Linked DNA regions of Homo sapiens: region 2 is linked to region 1. Evidence: fine-mapped QTL for protein levels in blood plasma. A gene starts in region 1. The other region holds a variant in brackets. All regions are shown on one strand. Distances are between the middles of the regions. Region 1 holds the start of SELP (selectin P). Region 2 overlaps SELP (selectin P).

Evidence for each region. PIP is the chance, under the fine-mapping model, that this variant and not a neighbour inherited with it causes the effect. Protein levels are from antibody-based Olink assays in UK Biobank. Linkage for the fine-mapping came from a reference panel and not from the study's own genotypes, which makes the PIPs less certain.
Region 2: its variant is fine-mapped to the plasma level of the SELP protein (UK Biobank, PIP above 0.99).

What each region holds. Positions count from the first base shown.
Region 1 is chr1:169,628,907-169,631,826 of GRCh38, forward strand. SELP (selectin P) reads right to left here and starts at 1,218. Exons shown (of 17, transcript NM_003005.4): 1 at 1,166-1,218. The coding sequence starts at 1,168.
Region 2 is chr1:169,610,437-169,613,356 of GRCh38, forward strand. SELP (selectin P) reads right to left here. Exons shown (of 17, transcript NM_003005.4): 5 at 2,493-2,678; 6 at 1,781-1,966; 7 at 1,056-1,241. Among named protein-coding and RNA genes, the nearest start is that of SELP, 18 kb to the right of the region's middle. The variant A/G (reference allele first, on the strand shown) is at 1,584.

The DNA.
Region 1 (2,920 bases):
CTGTTTTCCCCAACACAGAAACCCACATTATAAGTACTTGAAAAGTGTGCTATAGTAAAGCAAAGCAGTAGGATGAATCAGGTGTATGCGGTACTTTTTTCTGGAGTCCCACAGAAAGGTGCTCAAAAACAGAGACCTGCCTGGTTCCTCCATAGCCACAGACTGCAGGATTTCGGACCCTGGGACTATGTGGGATACTCTTGGAAAGTCTGAGGAAAATTGGAAGTAGCTTAACCATGTGCATTTTATCTAGGTGCATATAACATTGCTGAGTTCAAAATGCCTAGCTATCCTTGGATCTTCCCTGAATTAGAAGTAGCCTAACCACGTGCATCTTATCCATGAGCATATAACATTGCTGAGTTCAAAATGCCTAGCTATCCTTGGATCTTCCCTGAATCCTAAACCCCACTATTCCTAAGAATTTTCTTTTTATTGTAACAATAATGGCTAACATTTACTAATCACTTACTATGTGTCAGGCTCAGATCTGGATGCTTTTCAGCAAAATCTTATTTAATCCTCATGATGAAACTATAGAGTATTATTACTATATCCATTTTATAGAAGAAGAAACTGAGTCATTAACAAGATTGAGTCTTAGGGCAGAAAAGGAAACTATGTGGATATTCCAGATCAGTCCCAGAAGATTCATAGGCTCACAGAAAGAAATGGGAGGGATGGGGATGAGAAACTATTCAATTGTAAGCTTGTCCCAGGGCACCTACCCAGTCTTCCATTTATTCCATCATTTATCCCAGAGAGAAGTACAGTCTTGGAAAATGGGGTGACAGGTTTACCATGATCTATTCTCAGAGAGCCCCTATAAATTCTAGTAGGAGGAACAGCAGCTGCGGAGCCAGAGGACAGGCCCCAGATCCCAACATCATGTAGCCTAACAGTGAAGCTTAGATAAAACACAGCCTCTGTAAACCACGATGGCTTTATTTGTAAAATAGAAATAGCAACCTCAACTCACAAGGGTGTTGGGAGGGTCAAAGTGGACAGCAAGTTTAAAAGTACTCACAAAATCTAATAGGCAATTCAACATAAAACTCCATGGCTATCGCTGTTCCTCACTTTCTGAACCTTTACCTGCCTGACTTTACTCCATACCACTCCAACTCACTTCAACCACTTCCCATGCAGAAAAAAATAAACTCACCATCTCCTCTGTGACTCTGCTGGTTTTCTGCCTTCTGCCCAACCCAGACTGCTTACAGTCTCACTGCCTCCCCTCAGTGTCAGGCTGTTTAGAAAAACAACTTCCTATTCACATTCCAGAAACTCACCACAGCCCTTCCCATGAAGTTAGAATGTTGATAATGCAAGAGTAATGTTGGCAGCTTAGAAATAGTGGTTGCCAAGAGGCAAGGGGTCACCCCCTTCCATGGAAGATGGTCTGGAGGCAGGCGCAAGGTGAATTACTCCTGGATATCCCAGGCTGAGCAATGTGGGAACAGTACACACACAAAGGTTTCCTTGGATTATGATATAAGCTCCAATTTAAAGTAGTACATTTGGAAAACATGCTTTGAATTAATTACAATGTGATTTTCCAGTGCCCATTTTCCAGTAATTATGACATGTCAGTGAATGTTTACTATTCCGGCAGCCTTCTGAGGGAAAGAAGCAAAATTAGTAGCACAAAAAAAAATAGAGAGAAATGGAAAAAGCCACTAACAGTTTTCTGGCGCTTGGGAAATTTTATTGGTAAGTTTCAAAATGACGTATTAAATAGACATAGGTCATGTGAAAGGAATTCTGCTTCTTATATCAGAAATAAAAAGGTATACAAATAGATACCTTTTTATTTTCCTCTTCCCATGGGATGTGTAGGACCAAAAAGCTGTTGGCATAGTGGTTAAGACTTCAGCTGTGCTGTTAAACTGCCCGAGACCCATCCTGGCTCCTCTTCTGGCTATCTACTGGGCAAACTACTTAAGCTCTCTATGCCTCTGTTTCCTCAACTGTAAAACAGAATAACAGAACTTGCCTCACCGGGTTGTTGTAGGATGAAATGAGTTAATATGTACAGAGTGATTGAAATGACACTTGGCCCACAATTGATGCTCAACAAATGTTAGTGATTATTATTACTTTTCAGATTGATCTCAGACAGCAAAATCAAGTATCAAGTATTTAGTTTCAAGTCAGAAAGCCATAACTCCTATTTATACTCTTGGAATTCTATTGTACAGTAGTAGGTATTATTCTTCATTCACTTCATGATGGTTACAGCTTGTAAATAGGCATCTCATGGATAAATTTAAAATGGAATGAAGTAGAAACATTGGAAGAAAGTCTAAAGGTAAAGATGAATTAGGGTATATAAGGCTGCATTTGCACGTTGGAATTTGGGACCAAGAAGAAAAAATTAATTATATAGTAGAAGTAGAAAAGATGGTGAAGGAAATGCTGTTGAAGGAATGACTGTAGGGGAATAAGGGAAACTTAGAGAGAGGAAAAAATGAGGAACTTCTTGGCAGCATGATGCAGTTCAGAGTCCAGACCCTAGAGTCAGACTGCCTGGCTCCACCACCTACCAGCTGTGTTGGGCGTTACTAATCTCCCTATAACTCAGTTTCCTCAGTGATGTGGTTTGGCTGTGTCCCCACCCAAATCTCATCTGGAATTGTAGCTCCCATAATTCCCACAGGTTGTGGGAGGCACCTGGTAGATCATTGAATCATGGGGGTGGTTTCCCCCATACTGTTCTCATGGTAGTGAATAAGTCGCATGAGAGCTGATGGTTTTATAAGGGGAAACCCCTTTTGTTTGGTTCTCATTTCTCTCTCTTCCCTGCTGCCATGTAAGACGTGTCTTTTGCTTTCTACCATGATTGTGAGGACTCCCCATCCACGTGGAACTGTGAGTCCATTAAACCTTTTTTTTTTTAATAAGTTATCCAGTCTCGGGT
Region 2 (2,920 bases), 18 kb before region 1:
AGTGTAAAGACTACCTCTTTGCTCTGGGCTTTGACCTCTGGTTTTTACAGACTCAGAGCATTTAAGAACCAAAAATCCGGCTGAGCACAATGGCTCACACCTATAATCCCAGCACTTTGAGAGGCTGATGTGAGTGAATCACTTGAGGTCGGGAGTTTGAGACCAGCCTGGCCAAAGTGGTGAAACCCTAGTCTCTATTAAAAATACAAAAAGTTGCCTGTAATCCTAGCTATTCGGGAGGCTGAGGCAGGAGAATCGTTTGAACCTGGGAGGCAGAGGTTGCAGTGAGCTGAGATCGTGCCACTGCACTTCAGCCTGGGCGACAGAGTGAGACTCTGTCTCAAAACAAACAAACAAACAAACAAACAAACAAACAAACAAAAACACCAAAATCCTCTAGTGTTTCTCTCTTCTCTCTTATGTTTTAGGCAAGAAAAGTGAGGTTCAGAAGTGTTAAGTGACTTCTCTAAAGTCTCATAGCTAGATAGTAGCAGGGTTGGGCTTGTCATCCAGGTCTGGGAATTCACTAATCTATCGTAAATTTCCTATTCTCCCATTACCACTGTCCGCCTTATAAACTGAGGGTGTGAGGCAATTGCAGAGAATTCATTTTGGCGGAATTATGTAATTGCCTGGGATTGCATCACACACTTTTTCGATGCAGTGTTCCTTCCTTTGCTTCTTTGTCAAAGGCTACCCTCAAAGACTACATGGTGAACCACTCTCTTTAGCCACCTTAGCCGCTGCTCCCAACTCCCTCTCAAGTATAGGACATGGTCCTATACCTCGGATATGTCAGTAGAGCAGAAGCTCTATGCTAGGTACTTTATACATGCTATTTAATTGTATACTTTTTATGTACTTAATCCTCACAAGCACCTTGCAATTCTTAGCTCCATTTCACAGATGAGAAAACCATGGTTCCTGGAGGTTGAAGAGCTTGCTCTAGTGCAAGAACTTAGAAGAGATCACCCCGACACTGAGAGCCCTTGGCCTCTCTACCATGCCATGATTCCTTCTTGGACAGAATGGAGGTTGCTAATGAAAAATCCTACCCTCACAGGTTGGCAAGGGTGCAGACCAGTGTCCAGAGTCAATGCAGCGGAGCATGTCCAAGCCCCTCACTCTGTAGCCGGGCTGGCACTCAAATTTACAGCTGGAGCCATAGGCAAAAGCAGTGAGCGGATGAACACAGTCCATGGTTCCTTCACTGGGGGCTTCCAGGTGCTGACACTGCACAGCTGGAGAGAATAACCAAGGATAAAGAGAAAGATACTGAGAAAGGAGAAAAGCCACACAGAGAGCAATGGTGGAACCACCTCTGAAATGCAGGTGGAGCTAGCAAGATGTAAAGGTCAAGAGACCCTAATGATGTTTGTCCAGACTTGGATTACCAGTTCCCAGGGTGATCTGAGTCTGTTAAAAACAAAGATTCCTCCAAGCTGTATTCTTAATGTCCTCTATTCCCTATACTTCTATAAACCTGTCTCAGTAGGTCTTCTAGTGTCCACTTATAGATGTAGAGGCCACCCTTTCTAATCTTATGGGGAAATTATGAATGAGGCCATTCTGAAACTGCCTGC[A/G]TTTGTGTTTGGGGAAAGAAAGGAATTTTTTTCCTTTCTCATCTCAGATGAACCCAATCTAGCTGAATGGCAGGTAGGAAGAGAATTAAATTTTGGCAATTCAGGCCAGCTTCTCCATAAGCTGGTCAATTTCATCTATGCACTAAGTAAGGACTGGGTGCAATGGACATTATACATCCCAACTACCTGAAACTCACCTTTACACACTGGGGCTGGGGCTGTCCATACCCCCGAGGCTGTGCATTGCACCACTTCCGGTCCAACTAATGCAAATCCCTCTTCACAACTGAAGCTGCAGCTAGACTGATGCTGGAATGCTTTTGCAGAATGAAGGCAGGTCATGTTTCCTCGTTCAGGAATCTTCAGGGGTGGGCACTGGGCAGCTAAAACCAACCACAGAATAATAGTGTGAGTCCTTGGACAAATTTTGTCCATCACCTTGGAAGCCTTCAAATTCTGCAGCAGTCACACCTTCCCAAAGTGGCAGGCAGGTTGATGCACTAGAATGGTTAAATGGTGTTTTCAATAGCTGCTTGGAAAGATCAAACACCCTTGTTTTTCATGTAGAGAAGTTAGGTAAAATTATCAAATTAATAATTCTTAACCCCTAAGTCCTCATCATTGTACTCTGTTTACTTTACAATTAACAAAGGGAAAGAGGGGTCCCTTTGTAATGTTTTTGCCTGCGAATCAACAATTAAACTGACTAAGTCACTCTACCCATAAAAAAATACCATGAAAATTGAAATTAATGTTACTCTGGTTGACAGTTAACAGTGATAACCAGAGTTTTCCATCTAACCTAGATGGTCATTATTTCTCACATTTTTTAATGGAGAAAGCTCATTGTGTCCTCTTCTCCCCCAAAATTCTATGTCAGTGAGGATGAAAAGAATAAGGTCTACATACCTAAACACTGTGGAGGCTTATTTGTCCAGATTCCAGAAGCCAAGCATTCCAGCTTGCTGGGCCCATTTACTTGGTACCCGTCAGTGCAGTGGAAGCTGCACTGCGAGTTAAAAGAGAAGTTTCCCAGAGGGTGGCTGCAGTTCATGAGCACGTGTTGAGGGAGCTCAAGTTCTCCACACTCTCTCACTGCAGGAGACAAAATAGTGATTTTTATTTTCCATGTAGAATTAACAGCAATGTCATGTTTGCTGAAAGCTGTAACTATTTGTGTAACCCTCTTAACTCTAATTTTCTAAACTTTTAACCCAAGCTATCCATCTCTACTTGGTCTCTTTGTATTGGCTGCATCTTGGGAAATAGTCATTCTTTCACAAGTTTTTACTTCAAACAAGTAAAATTAGCCTGAAAGTTCTGTTGGTTTTGCTTCC